2 linked regions of the Homo sapiens genome follow. The protein of the gene in region 1 purifies or fractionates together with the protein of each later gene. This does not show direct contact. Each region holds a gene or a part of one and is shown in the gene's direction. Other genes may lie near its edges.

The links.
Region 2: the proteins of PLSCR4 (region 1) and DPH1 purify together in Homo sapiens (affinity purification with mass spectrometry; 2 studies listed by BioGRID and IntAct, with this or other methods). This does not show direct contact.

What each region holds. Positions count from the first base shown.
Region 1 is NC_000003.12:146,205,446-146,213,546, reverse strand, and holds part of PLSCR4 (phospholipid scramblase 4), read left to right. Parts: intron 1-6,785; coding exon 6,786-7,021; intron 7,022-8,101. UniProt on the Homo sapiens protein: Catalyzes metal ion-induced ATP-independent rapid bidirectional and non-specific movement of phospholipids (lipid scrambling or lipid flip-flop) between the inner and outer leaflet of the plasma membrane and participates in the redistribution of phospholipids between membrane leaflets.
Region 2 is NC_000017.11:2,026,022-2,033,936, forward strand, and holds the start of DPH1 (2-(3-amino-3-carboxypropyl)histidine synthase subunit 1), read left to right. Parts: upstream 1-4,131; 5' UTR 4,132-4,133; coding exon of another isoform or gene 4,134-4,148; coding exon 4,149-4,209; intron 4,210-7,483; coding exon 7,484-7,636; intron 7,637-7,757; coding exon 7,758-7,821; intron 7,822-7,915. UniProt on the Homo sapiens protein: Catalyzes the first step of diphthamide biosynthesis, a post-translational modification of histidine which occurs in elongation factor 2.

The sequences.
Region 1 (8,101 bases):
ATTTGAGACCAGCCTGACCAACATGGCGAAATCCCATCTCTACTAAAAATACAAAAATTAGCTGACAGGTGCCTGTAATCCCAGCTACTTGGGACACTGAGACAGGAGAATGGCTTGATCCCGGGATGCAGAAGTTGCAGTAAGCAAAGATCACACCACTGTACTCCAGCCTGGGTGACAGTTGAGACTACATCACAAAAAAAAAAAAAAAAGGAAATTTTACTAAATGCTGCATGAAGGTTTTAATACCAGTCATTTACAATGTCTTCCATAGAAATGAAAGAAGAATGAATTCTTCCTAGCTAATTCTAGAGGCCAGTATTACCCAATTAGCAAAATCTGACATAGATGTTACAAGAAAAGAAAACTAAAGATCATATCCCTAATAAATATAGAATCGGACTTTCTCAACAAATTACTAGCAAACCAGATTTAGGAACATAAAAAAGGATTAAACACCATGACCAAGTGGGATTTATCCCATGGATAAAAGATTGGTTTATCACATTAAATATCATATTAAAACACATCAATGTATGTACTATATTAATAAAATATAGTACAAACACCACATGACCACATCAGTAAGCACAGAAATCACACTTGACAAAATACAACATCCTCCATGATAAAAACACTTAAGAAACTAGAAATAGGAGGAACTCCCTCAATCTGATAAAAGAGTACCTATGAAAAACTCACACCAAACATTATGTTTAGGAGTAAAGACTGAAAACGTTCATTTCATCTAAGATCAAGAATGAGACAGGGTATCTTTCTTGCCACTTCTATTCAGCATTGTACTGGAAGTTCTAGCCAGAGCAATTAGTCAAGAAAAAGAAAGAAAATTCATCCAGATTGAAAGAAAGAAACAAAACCATCTCCATTTGCAGAAGACATGAGCCTATATATGTAAAAAGTCTAAGCTGGGTGCAGTGGTACACTCCTGTACTCCTGTAGTCCCAGTTACCTGGAGGCTAGGGTAGAAGGATCAATTGAGTCCAGGGATTTGAGACTGCAGTGAACTATGATCATACTACTGCACTTCAGCCTGGGTGACAGACTGAGACCCTGTCTAAAAAAAAAAAAACCCAAAAAACAAAAAAAAACAAAACAAAAAAACCCATATATACCCACAAACAGCACAATAAACAAGTTCAGCAGTGTGTTAGGATATAAGATCATAATACAGAAATCCAAAAGTATTTCTATATATTAACAATGAAAAATGTAAAAAGAAATTAAAATTATAATTCCACATACAATAACATTAAAAATAACATACCCAGAAGTAACTTTAATAAAAGGAGTAAAATATCTTTCATATTGAAAACTATAAAACGTTGAAAGAAATTAAAGAAGACTACGTAAGTGGAAAGGCATTTTACAGATTTGAAAAGTAAATATTGTTAAATGGAAATGCTCCTTAAATTGATCTACAGATTCAACACAATTCTTATCACAGTGGAATTTTTAAATTGACAGGCTATTCCTCAAATACATATGGAAATGTAAAGGATTCAGAATAGCCTAAACAATCTTGAAAAAAAATTGGAGGACTCACAATTCCCAATTTCCAATTTACTATAAAGCTACAGAAGTCAATACCACAGTACTAGCATAAAGATAGACATATAGACCAATGAGATAGAATTGAGAGTCTAAGAAATAAACCCAAACATCTGTAGCCAACTGATTTTTTACAAGCATGTCAAAATAATTCAATAGGGAAAGAATACTCTTTTCAACAAAGGATCTGAGACAAATGAATATCAACATACAAAAGAATGATTTGAAACTGTCTCACCCTAAACACAAAAACTCTAAATGAATCAAAGATCTATGTGTTTGAAAGACCTATGTCTAAGAGTGAAAACTATAAAACTTTTACAAGATATAGATGTAAGTATTTATGTCCTTGGATTAGGCAATAGTTTCTTAGATATGATATGACACTCTAAAGCACAAACAACCAACAAAAAATAAATTGGACTTCATAACAATTAAAAAGTTTTGTATATCTAAGGACACTATCAAAGAGAAAAGACAACCTACACAATGAGAGAAAACACTTGCAAACTATCTGGCAAGAGACTTTTATCTTGAATATATAAAGAACATTTATAATGCAACAATAAAAAGACAAATGATTCAGTTTTAAAGTAGGCAAAAGATTTAATAGATAGTTCTCCAAAGGAGATATACAAATGGCCAATAAGCACATGAAAAGATGCTGAACATCATTAGTAATCAGAAAAATGCAAATAAAAATCACAATAAGATACAACTTCATACCCACTAAGATGACTAAAATAAAAACAGACAATAACAAGTATTGGTGGAGGATGTGGAGAAAGTAGAACTCTCATATTTGCAAGTGGACATGAAATTGTAAAGCCACTTTGGAAAACAGTTTGGCAGTTAATAATGGAGTTACTAAATATTTCAGCTAATTTCACTCATAGCTAGAGAACTGAAAACATGTCCACACTAAAACTTGTACATGGAGGATCACAGCAGTGTTATTTATAATAGCCCAGAGTGAAAGCAACCTAAATGTCCATTGACTGATTAAACAATACCTAAAATGTGATATATCCACACAATAGAATACTACTCAGCCATAAAATGGAATTAAGTACTTATATGTGCTACAACATGGATGAACCTTGAAAACATGCCAAGTGTAAAAAAAAAAACAGACATAAAGGCCTATTGTATGTTTTCATTTACATGAAAAGTGTAGATTAGGCAAATCCACAGATAGTAGTGGTTTTCAGGGACTGTGGGGAAGAGGAGATGGAAATTGCTGCTAATGGGTATGGGTGTTCTTTCTGGTATGATGAAAATTCTGGGTTTAGGTAGCAGTGATGGTTGCACAACTTTGAGAATATACTTAAAACCACTACATTGTACATTTTAAAAAAGGATCAATGAAATAAAATGTTTTGTTAATCTCAAGTTTTGCCATAGAGATCCTGTTGCAATAGATTGGAATGAGGCTCAGAATCTGGAATTTTACTAAGAACTCCAGATTATCTTGAAGGACTTGGTATATTGAGCCACAATTTAAGAAACAATATGTTGAGGTGATTTTTTTCTCTAAATTTAAACATCTGCCTTTGAAAATCTGAAAAATCTAGTTCCATTTTTAAAAATTGCCTTCATGTCTTGTCACTAAGGCTTCAGATTTTACAGTTCAAGTCTTAGCTGGTATTCCCTGCTCATAAAAAGTTGTTTTTATTTAATTTAAACTAAAATAGATCCACAGTTGGACCCCTATATTTGTGAATTCTTCATCCATGGATTCAAAAAAGTGTGGATTAAAAATATTTTAAAAGCACAATTAAAAATGACAATAAAAATTATACAATAAAAATAACACAAAAACAATTTATATTAGCATTTACATTGTGTTAGCTATTGTAAGTAATCTAGACATCATTTAAAGTATATGGGAGGCTGTGAGTAGGTTACATGTAAATACTACACCATTTTATATAAGGGACTTAAGCATTTGTAGGTTTTGGTATTTGAGGGAGTCCTGGAACCAATCCTTTATGAATATCAAGGGACGACTATACTGAAATCTTAACATAAAATATCTTGACTTACATAACTTATTTTGTTTTCAACCACAGGACATTATTCCTTAAATTCTCTCTTAAAGGAGAAAAACCTTTCTTTATCTGAGCCTGGCCTTCCTGACAGTTCAGACAACATCACTTGTGGGCTGCTTGTGGCTCTACTACTCACAGGATTTCAGTTAGAGCTACAAGACCTTAGCAATAAGTTAGGGTCTGTTGCATATTTCTGGGTAGACAACCAAGACCCAGTTATTTATAAATTTTAATTAATTAATCTTAAAAACTTGGAAAGTGAAACAAAAATAAATTAGTAATGATCAAAGTTATTCAAAAAATTCCTGGTAACCAGACCTAGATAGATATGCAGTAATGGCATTCTCATACTTATTGTTGGCAATTCTTTGACTTTAAAAAAACATAGTGAAATGCAAAGTTACCACTGCTTATCTTAAGAGACCTTGATAAAAAAATTCCTAAAGTCAAACATTAGCTGTTGTGTGCTTATTCATTTTTATGAGTACTCTTTTTAAAAAATATTTTATTTCCATAGGATTTTGGGGAACAGGTGGTATTTGGTTATATGAGTAAGTTCTTTAGTGGTGATATTTTGTGAGATTCTAGTGCACCCACCACCCAAGCAGTATACACTGAACCCAATTTGTAGCCTTTTATCCCTCACCCCCTTCCCATCATTACCCCTGAGCCCCCAAAGTCCATTCCATTGTATCATTTCTATGCCTTTGCATCCTCATAGCTTAGCTCCCACTTACGTGTGAGAACATACAATATTTGGTTTTCCATTCCTGAATTACTTTCCTTAGAATAATAGTCTCCAATCGCATCCAGGTTGCTGTGAATGCCATTAATTCATTCCTTTTTATGGCTGAGTAGTATTCCATCATATATATATGTAATCCCACATTTTTCTTTATCCACTCGTAGATTGATGGGCATTTGGGCTAGTTCCGTATTATAGCAGTGAATTGCGCTGCTATAAACATGCATATGCAAGTATCTTTTTTTGACTTCTTTTCCCCTGGATAAATACCCCAGTAGTGGGATTGCTGGATCAAATGGTAGTTCTACTTTTAGTTCTTTAAGGAATCTCCACACTGTTTTCCATAGTGGCTATACTAGTTTACATTCCCACCAGCAGTGTAGAAGTGTTCCCTGTTCTCCGTACATGTCAACATCTGTTATTTTTTGAGTTTTTGATTATGGCCATTCTTGCAGGAATAAGGGGTTATTACATTGTGGTTTTGATTTACATTTCCCTGATCATTAGTGATGCTGAGTATTTTTTCATACAATTGTTGGCCATTTGTGTATCTTCTTTTGAGAATTGTCTATTCATGTCCTTATCCCACTTTTTGATGGGATTGTTTGTATTTTCTTGCTAATTTGTTTGAGTTCGTTACAGATTCTGGATATTAGTCCTTTGTCAGATGTATAGATTGTGTTTGGGTTGTCTGTTTACTCTGCTGACTGTTGTTTTTGCTGTGCAAAAGCTCTTTAGTTTAATTAAGTCCCACCTACTTATCATTGCTTTTGTTGCATTTGCTTTTGGGTTTTTGGTCATGAAGTCTTTGCCTAAGCCAATATCTAGAAGGGTTTTTCTGATATTATCTTCTAGAATTTTTATAGTTTCAGGTCTTAGATTTAAGTGCTTGATCCATCTTGCGTTGATTTTTATATAAGGTGAGAGATGAGCATCCAGTTTCATTCTCATACATGTGGCTAGCCAATTATCCCAGTACCATTTGTTGAATAGGGTGTCCTTTCCCCACTTTGTGTTTTGTTTGCTTTGTCAAAGATCAGTTGGCTGTATTTGGGTTTATTTTTGGGTTCCCTATTCTGTTCCATTGGTCTATGTGCCTATTTTTATACCAGTACCATCTTGTTTTGGTGACTATGTCCTTATAGTATCATTTGAAATCAAGTAATGTGATGCCTCCAGATTTGTTCTTTTCACTTACTTAGTTTTGCTTTGGCTATGCAGGCTCTTTTTTGGTTGCATATGAATTTTAGGATTGTTTTTTCTAGTTCTGTGAAGAACGGTGATAGTATTTTGATGGGAATTGCATTGAATATGTAGACTGTGCTCTTAAAGCATGATAAAATCTTGTATCCATTTAAGGAAATCTAGGTTCCTTGATGGACTTATAATGACAAAGATAATTCATCAGATCTCTGATTGAAGGTGGAATGGGGAGAAATGATAGAGGGATAAGTGCTGTGGGCTGAATGTTTATATCCCTCCCAAATTCACATATTGAAGTCCCATTTCCCAATGTGATGTTACTTGGAAGTGGGGCCTTTCAGAGAAAATTAAATCAAAAGAGTGGAGCCCTCATGATGGCACTCATACCCTATAAGAGGAGACATGAGAGGGATTCTGTCTTTCTGTCTCTCTCTCTCCCCCTTCACTCTGTGAGCATATAGCAAGAAGGTGAACATCTGCAAACCAGGAAAGGCTCTCACCAGGTTTGACCATGCTAACATTTATCTTTGAACTTCCCAGCCTCCAGAACTATAAGAAAGAAATGCTTGTTGTTTAAGCCACTCAGTTTGTGCTTATTTTGTTATAGCAGCATAACTACTAAGAAAATAACTTTAAGAAATTGAATCTAAAAGAGGTCAGGATTGGGGACCAGTCTGAGAACTCGATGATGAAGATATGTACAAGCGATTGGGTCAAGGCAACCTAAAATATTCATTAAAAGCACTCCTTTGAAATGAAGTAGACATTATTTATGTAACCACAAACAATAACAATAGACATAATAACAAAAATTTGCAGGAGTAATTATATGTTAGTAATTATACGTTAGTAATTAATACGTTAGTAATTAATCCCACTACAACCTCATTAGGTAAGTTTATTATCTCCAAGGAGGAACCTAATTTATTAAGAAGCTAACATGTTTCTTCTAATGTTTCAAAACTTATTTTTGTACCATTGAAATGGGAATAATTATCTTATAAGCTTTAAGAGGATTAAATGAATTAATATGTAAATAAGTCTCCCTAATACATCGTTGGGTCATATGCAACCATGATCTGCATAAAGTGTGAATCAAAAATGGAACAAGTTGTTATATTTAAGTGGATGTCGTGTGATCTATTTCATCGCATGTAAAAAGTTATGCTAACTTTAGTGTTAATAATATATAACACTTTGATTTCTTTTGAACACAGGACCCCCTGGAACAGCTGTCCCTCCACCTACTGGCTACCCAGGAGGCTTGCCTATGGGATACTACAGTCCACAGCAACCCAGTACCTTCCCTTTGTACCAGCCAGTTGGTGGTATCCATCCTGTCCGGTATCAGCCTGGCAAATATCCTATGCCAAATCAGTCTGTTCCAATAACATGGATGCCAGGGCCAACTCCTATGGCAAACTGCCCTCCTGGTCTGGAATACTTAGTTCAGGTACTCCATGAAAATACAAATTATTTTCTTATGAAATGTGACCATAGGGATCCAACAAAGAGAGAAAAAAAGCAGACCAGAGTGAATAAAGGAGATGGGTCAGTGATGACAGATGCCATTTGTGAAACTATAAGAACAGTGATACCAGTTTCAGAAATATGAAGGGGAAACAGCAAGTACAAGGATGTTTATAGTGGGATGAGTATGTTTTTCATAAGGATTTATGTTGAACTTCAAGGCATTCAAGATGTTTTCTTGAAAGAATTGTACAAATGGAAATAGAAAAACTATCATAGAGGATAGTTGTGTTATTTGCTTAGAAGTAAACAGTTAACATCAAAAAAAGCACAAAAGAGAACAAAACACAATACAGTGGGTAAATTACTGAGTGCCTTAGCCCATTGCTTTTTACCACCACCCATCATTTTCATTAGCTACTCTTGTCACCCCCAAAAACAAACAATATAAATAAAAATAATGGACCCTACAAAGAATATTGCTTCAGGCCAAGTTCCAGAGACCCCCTTCATACAACACAATAACTCCCTAATTAACATCTATGTAGATATTCTGCTGCCACCAGGACATGCAGATCAAAAACTGGGGTAATATGGGAAGTTTGTGCACAAATAGTTTTGTTTAAAAACCCATGTCTGAAACTAAAAAACCTGCTTAATGAAAATAAGATAAAGCTGGCAGAGTAGACGCCTTTTATTTGTGGCGTTGATTCCTGCGGTTTCAGTTACCAATGGTCAACCAGGTTCCAAAAATATTAAATGGAAAATTCTAGAAATAAACCATTCATAAATTTTAAATTTATTCTGAGTAGCATGATGAAATCTTGCACAGTCCTGCTGTGTTCTGCCTGGCACATATATCATTCCTTTGTCCAGTGTATCCACGCTGTAGATGTTATCCATAGTATACAGACCCAGAGTCACATCTTGGTTATCAGATTGACTTACAGTATCACAGTGCTTGCATTGAAGTAACTTATTTTACTTAATTATGTCTCCAAAGCACAAGAGTAGTAATGCTGGGAATTTGGATATGTCAAGGAAAGACCAAAGAGAGGCCATA
Region 2 (7,915 bases), on another chromosome or scaffold:
CGGCGGGGGGTCTCTGATCTCCCTTGGTCCACACAGACCCCGCCGGGGGGTTCGCGGAAAATGGAGGAGGCGCCGCTTGGAAAGCGGGTCCCGCAGGGGCCTGTTGAGCTGAGGGAAGAGAAGGTTCGGGCCAGGCGAGATCCTGGGTGGAGGCGGCACCCCCTGCTGGCCTGGGATCAGAGGGATTCGGAGAGAAGAAAAAGCGGATGGACCAAGGCTGTCATTCAACACACATTCACCGAAGGCTCAGCATGTGTGGGGCACTACTGTTCCTGAAAATTCAGCAGACGAAAAAGACTTGTCTTTGCCCTGTCCTCAAGGAGTTTCCATTTTAATAGGGGCCAAATGAGGAAAGTCCAGAGAAGATGGGAAGATTGTGCTTCGAAGAAAAACAAGCAGAGTATTGTTCTGGAGCTGACACGGGGGTAGAGGTGGCAGTCAAGGAAAGCTGCTCTGAGCAGGTGACATCCAAGCAGAAATCCAACTGAATCCCTCCTTGTAGGAAAAGGTGACATGATAGGAAGGTCAAAAAGAAGGTCAGGGCCGGGCGCGGTGGCTCACGCCTGTAATCCTAGCACTTTGGGAGGCGGAGGCAGGCAGATCACGAGGTCAGGAGTTCGAGACCACCCTGGCCCGCATGGTGAAACCCGGTCTCTAATAAAAATACAAAAATTAGCCGGGCATGGTGGCAGGCGCCTGTAATCCCAGGTACTCGGGAGGCTGAGGCAGGAGACTCGCTTGAACCCGGGAGGCGGAGGTTGCAGTGAGCCGAGATCGCGCCACTGCACTCCAGCCTGGGTGACAGAGTGAGACTCTGTCTCAAAAAAAAAAAAAAAAAAAGGGCCAGGCTGGGCGCGGTGGCTCACACCTGTAATCCCAGCACTTTGGGAGGCTGAGCAGATCACTTGAGGTCAGGAGTTCGAGACCAGCCTGGCCAAGGTGAAACCCCGTCTCTATTAAAAATACAAAAATTAGCCGAGCGTGGTGGTGTGCGCCTGTAATCCCAGCTACTTGGGAGGCTACGGGAGAATCTCTTGAACACAGGAGATGGAGATTGCAATGAGCCGAGATCACACCACTGCACTCCTGCCTGGGTGACAGAGCGAGACTGTCTCAAAAAAACAAAACAAACAAAAAAAAAGAAGGCCAGTCTGACGTATTCACTCACACCTGCATTTGGTGGCACTGAAGCTTCAGATTTGAGCTAAGGCTCTGGGCTTGGACTTCCAGAAGCTTCAGGTGTCGTGGGAAAAGAAAGACCCGCAAACCATCTTAGAGTGTGACTGACAGAAGTCACAAAGACTGCGAAAGGGCTCTGCTAGCTCTGCCAGGGGCTACCAGATAATCAGGAAACAGTCACAGAAGAGGTGCCCTTGGAGTTAGGTCTTGAAGGCTGAGTTCACCACACTAAGAAGGGGGAAGGGCATTCCACGTAGATGCTTGAAGGTGAGAAGTAACCTTGTTCTGAAGATAGATAAGATTGGTCCTTCCTGAGGACCATGGGCTCACACCTATAATCTCACCACTTTGGAAGGCTGGGGTGGGAGGATTGCTTGAGGCCAGGAGTTTGAGACCAGCCTGGGCAACAGTGTGAGACTCCATCTCTATTTCAAAAAAATGTTTAAAGATAAAAAAAGATGGATGGCTGCTACTCTGGGCACACTGCCCATGGCCACAGGAGCAGTTAAACACGAACAAAAAAAGATTGGTCCCTCTTGGCGTAGAACAGAAGGTGAGGTATTCCTTCTCTTAGCCACCAGCTACAAGGCAGTGCTCACCCCACTGCCTGCCTTAGCCCTGACACTGGGAGCCTGAGAGGTCCTCTGTAAGTACACCGAGGCCCAGAGAGGATGAACAACTTGCTCAACGTCACATCACAGATCAGCGATAAAGTGTGGGCCTGACTCAGGGCCTGAATGTGGGATAATCCTCCTTCCACCTCTCCAAGCCGCCTCCCCATGACCCCCTAGCCCACAAACTCTAGCGTCTTAGGAAAAGTTGGCTGGGGCTGGGCGTGAGTGTGAGAAGCAGAGTTATTTCAGGCCTCAGGAGGGTTGGGTGCTGCCTTGGAGTCCAGCCAGGGAGTGGGGGCGAGTGAAGGCGGGTGTTGTGGTGTACTGTGGGGGTGCACTGTGCCCGCCTTCTTGTCAGGCAGTAATTACTCAGACTGCTGAGTAACTCAGGCAGGGAGACCCCCACAGACAGATGGAGGTGCCCTCAGCCCAAGCTGAATGGCAGCCCCCAATGTCCTGCACCACGGAGTCTTGGGGAAGCATTCTCACATCTGTTCTTCATGTCCAGTTCTCCTAGGCATCATCCGGCTTCCTAATGGGGGCCAGAGCAGCTCATTAGGCACAGCGGGTGCGGGGCAATGTTACTAGAGGGATGGGACTTTTGCCATCAAACAGGCCCCACCTCTGATGAGGGAAAGGTCCCAAGGGATATGGCGCCTGCTAGGGAGAAGCCATTGCTCAGTTGGAGCCAGTCCTTTCCCCTTGAAACTCCATGCTGCAGTCACAGCTAAGGCTGTCCACAGGCTGGGCAGCAGTGTCCTGAGAGAGGAGGGGCTGAGCTCCCAGAATTCAGATCTTGCACCCTGGGGATCCAGAGAAGCTGGGGGGAGATGGGAAGGTCTAGTCCGGACGCTTATCGAGTTGAGGGGAGTGTTCCTGGGACCCACATTGGTCACTTTTCTGTCTAGAGCTACCTGTCCTAAGAGTGCCGGTGGCCTGGGGGGCACAGCACTGACCCTTGGTGATGGTCCCTCAGCTGCTCACTCCCTGCCTGTCCAGCCATTCCTCCTCTCTGGGCAGCCTCCCAGGCAGGGCCTGTCTCTGGCTGCTTGTTTTTACTTCTCCCTGCACCTTAATTAGGGGTTTCCAAGCAGGGAGGGCCTCTGGGGGAGCCCGAGGACACAGAGCTGACTTAAAGGGCCAGCTGTGATCACAGCACCACCGCAGAGAGAGGAGGAGGATGCCAGGGGGCTGGGTAGACCGTCAGACCTGGAAGACCATTGTTCCACGGGACAGACTGCTGAGGGCCAGTCCTGCAGGTACTTTGCTCTTCCACAGGTCAAAGCCGTCTCACTGGCTGTCTTCTCTTTGGGGTCTCTGGGGCTCTGGCCAGTGATCAGGAGAAAGACCAGCCCTGAGGGGCAGGGCAAAGGTTGGCCAGGGTCCAGAAGGGTTAGACATCACAGTCCTCCACTGCCCACCTTCCCAGGAAAGCACCCTCAGGCTGTGGGCCTTCCCCAGAGGGGCAGTTTCTACAGGGTCTACGCAGTGGATTCTAAAGGTGATAAAGGCTGGGTGCAGTGGCTCGCGCCTGTAATCCCAGCACTTTGGGAGGCCAAAGTGGGAGGATTGCTTGAGTCCAGAGGTTCAAGACCAGCCTGAGCAAAATAGTGAAACCTTATCTCTACTAAAAAAAAAAAAAAAAAAAAAAAAAAAAATTAGCTGAACGTACGCCTGTGGTCCCGGGTACTCAGGGGGCTGAGGCAGGAAGATGAATTGAGCCCAGAAGGTTGAGACTGCTGTGAACCATGATCGCACCACTGCACTCCAGCCTGGGCGACAGACCAAGACCCTGTCTCAAAAAAAATAATTTAAAAAGCTGATAAGGGCGATCCACAAACCTGCACCAAGACTCTCAACTTGGAGCTGGGCTGGTGGTCCCTGAGTTCTGTCCTGCCGGACAGTAGAGTCCCCCTAGGTAGGGAACGTGGCCCCACACGGCGGCCGGGTGACCGACCACTGCTTACCAGGAGGGGAGACTGGCAGGGGGGGCTCAAGGAACATCTGGTGGGTGTCCCCTTCACAAGACTCGGCCTGCAGAGTTCGTGCAGGGAGTTCGCACATAGGAGAGCACCGGTCCGGGAGTGCCAGGCTCGTGCCCGGCCGGGGAGAGGAGTGGGAGACTAAGTCGCAGGGCAAGGGCAACTGCATAGTCGGGGACCTCTAGGGAATCCTGAGTCCCGGCATTCTGGGCTGGGGTGGAGCCCACTACAGCCCCGCCCCTATCTCCTCCTTTATGGCCCCGCCCAGCGGGTATCCCCCGCCCCCGCTGGCCGATCGGCGATCGATCGCAATGTCTGCGCTCTCCGCGTTCTTCCAGCGCTGTCTTTTTAGTACCACATGCGCAGGCAGGTGATGGCGGCGCTGGTCGTATCCGGGGCAGCGGAGCAGGGCGGCCGAGACGGCCCTGGCAGAGGTGGGTGCTGGAACGCTGCGCCCTCCAGACCTCGCATCTCGGGGCGGGGCCCCCAAGTTAGGGACAGGACCAACCCCCTTTAACGGCGGCGGCGCCTTTCTCCGCTAGATCCCGCTGTTAGTCGCCTTGGGCCGCTGTCACCAGCTCGGGGTCGCTGTCAGCCGGAGCCCAGGGGTACCAGTCTTTTGCAGCTTTAGGGCACGACCGAGAGCAGCCCTTAATCCTCCAATCGGAAACTACAGCCTTGTCTTGGCGGGTAGACGGATAAAATGGACTCGACGGGGAGGGAAAGGGCCAGGCCAGATGCAGCGGGCATTTTACGAGTGCGCCCTCAGGGAATGCTTTCAGGGAAGAGGCAAAAGGTTTCATTCGCCAGGCATTAACTGAGCGCCCACCGAATGCCAGGCCTGCGCTGGGTGCAGGTACTAGAATCAGAGATCTCAGTCTACTGGGGGAATGTTAATGTAAACATATCATAGCCACGTGATAAAGGAGGAGGTGCCTACTGGTCCCTGGGACACATTGAAGGGCTAATGTTAGCAGTTCCTTACACGCCAGCGACCACTAGGGACCTGTCAGAGGAGGATCTGTAATGGGCCTAGGAAGCCTAGGCTGATTGTCCAAGGCTTTTGAAACAACTGGCCAAAAACCATAGCAGTGGTAACGTTCAAATCTGATCTCAGGGCCCCAGCCTCCGCTGGACCATCCCCACCGCCGCCCACACAGTGGGTGAAGCCTCATGTCTGGGCGGGTCCCTCCTATCATAGTGTGGGGCCCTAGCAGAAGTTGTGGCACATAGCACAGTCTCAATACATATTCGTTGAATAAGTTAATTTCTTGCCTTTTCATATCCTCAGACTCTGTGGCTCCTGAAGAGATAACGGGGTTGAACTAAGCTTAATTGTCGGGGCAGGGCATAGTGGCTTACACCTTTAGTCTGAGCACTTTGGGAGGCTAAGGAGGATTGTGTGAGCCCAGGAATTCCACACCAGTCTGGGAAACATAGGGGGACCCTGTATGCACAAAAAAATAAAAAATAGCCGTGCGTGGCCGGGCACGGTGGCTTACACCTGTAATCCCAGCACTCTGGGAGGCTGAGGCGGGCGGATTACCTGAGGTCAGGAGTTTGAGACCAGCCTGGCCAACATGGTGGAAACCCTGTCTCTACTAAAAATACAAAAATTAGCCGCGTGTGGTAGCACACGCCTGTAATCCCAGCTACTCGGGAGGCTGAGGCAGGAGAATTGCTTGAGTCCGAGAGGCTGAGGTTGCAGTGAGCCGAGATTGCACCACTGCACTCCAGCCTGGCCAACAGACAGAGTGAGACTCTGTCTCAAAAAAAAAAAAAAAAAAAAAAATTAGCCCTGCGTCTTGGCACATGCCTGTGGTCCTAGCTACTGGGGAGGCTGAGGTGGGAGGATTATCGTTTGAGCCCAGGACGTCGAGGCCGCAGTGGACCATGATTGCACCCCTGCACTCCAGCCTGGGTGATGGAGTGAGACCCTGCCTTAAAAAATAATAAGATGAATTGTTTATTCAGCTTATTATTTTTTATCCTACTTAGGAGTAGGATGAGACCAGAGTAAGAGTTGCAGTTTGCTAAGGGCTACGGTTTCCCCTTTACTCCAGGAGTTGTAATTATGTGTATACCTGTCTTTTCCCCCACTAGACTGCTGGTCTCTAAGGGACAAGGTCACTTTTCTGTCCTTACTGGTACGTCCACCACCCTGACTCAAGTGTTCTTTCCATCCTTCCTGGTTTAAGAGTAAGGAGGAGCAATGGGACAGCTAAGTCAGTTAAATGTATGATGTTTATTTCCCTTTTAAATGAGGAGAGGTAAGCGTGAAAGAACGAACAGTGTGGCCACAGTCAGTGGGGTTCTGAGTCAGGAGGGCAGTCTTTTAAGTTAGTATTCATGTTTAACGGTTTGCTTATAGACCTCATATCTAGAAGCTCAAAACTTCAAGGTGTCCTCAGGAGGTGGGAGAGGGGGGACATTCTCCCAGGCTGGCTGGGCTGGCTAGACTGACTCTTAGGTTTTCCGCAGGGCTGTTCTCTATCAGGGAGCAGTATATGGACTCAGACTCATTCTTTGCCCCTTAGCCCCTGGTGTCACCTCTGTTCTCCTGAGGAAGAAGGTGAGCCATATTCTATTCATGGGCTCAAGTCTTCGATTCCCAGTGATTTCACAACATGGAAATTATACCGGTTACCTTCTGGCTTAATGAATTGTCTCTACCTTCAGGATGAATTCAGTGAGAACGAAAGCTGGGCCAACCCCCTTGGTGTCTGGATCTGGCCCTTAAACTTGGTGGAGTTAACAGCTTAGCTGGGTCTTGTTACCAAACTCAACTTGGGTCTTCCCATCCACACAAAGCAAAAGCCAAACACTGACATGGAGATTTGCAGGGAGAGAACAAGCATTTATTGTAAGGCACCAAGCAGGGAGACTGGGCAGCTAAAGCTTAAGACCTAAACTTCCTGATGGCTTACAAGCAAAGGGTTTTTATTTTATTTATTTATTTATTTTTGAGATGGTGTCTCGCTCTGTTGCCCAGGCTGGAGTGCAGCGGCGTGATCTCGGCTCACTGCAAGCTCCGCCTCCCGGGTTCACCCCATTCTCCTGCCTTAGCTGGGACTACAGGTGCCTGCCACCAGGCCCGGCTAATTTTTTGTATTTTTAGTAGAGAGTAGTATTTCCCCGTGTTAGCCAGGATGGTCTCGATCTCCTGATCTCGTGATCCGCCCGCCTCAGCCTCCCAAAGTGCTGGGATTACAGGCGTGAGCCACTGCGCCCGGCTGCAGAGGGTTTTTAAAGGCTGGGCTTCTGGGGATCTTTAAAGTGAATTAAGGGCTGGGGAATTTCTGGAACTTTCTTACCTATTTTCTGGCTTCAGTCTGTCTGAGGTCTTACATGACAGCAATTAGTTGGCATTTTTCACCTGGTGGGGGGGTGGGTGTCCTGGTTTCTGAAAAACAACTTAGGGATATATGTCAAGGTGTTATGTGTAGTTTCTATAGGGAACCAGGCATCTCGTGACTCTGACTTGGGTGACTGTTGTTTATTATCTTCTTGTTTAGCAAGTTATTTAATTCCCTAATTGCTGGTTGTAGGGCTAGCTAAGATGCCTGGGATTTTTCTTGAGATGACTCAAAATTTTTATTTCTATGCTTGAGCGGGGGCACCGGCAGGCCCTGAAAAGGGATCCCTATTCCATCTCAATCTGGCTTCAGCCAAAGACAGACACCAACTCAGGCCTTATATCCATTCTAGGTCGGGCCCCTCGGGGCCGCGTGGCCAATCAGATCCCCCCTGAGATCCTGAAGAACCCTCAGCTGCAGGCAGCAATCCGGGTCCTGCCTTCCAACTACAACTTTGAGATCCCCAAGACCATCTGGAGGATCCAACAAGCCCAGGCCAAGAAGGGTGAGCCTGTGATCATTGAGCTGGGGTTGGGGTGGAGAGGTTGCCTGGCCCAGATGGGACAGTGTCCCCCTTGCAGCCCCTTCCTAGCCCTCCACCTCTCATGTCTCTGCTCGTCTTGCAGTGGCCTTGCAAATGCCGGAAGGCCTCCTCCTCTTTGCCTGTACCATTGTGGATATCTTGGAAAGGTGAGGCTTGGGGCACTGGAGAGGAGGGTGAGCCAGGCTTCCCCCACCCCCTATGCTCATTACCCGGGTGGGTAAAGCCCTGGTGGCGGGCATT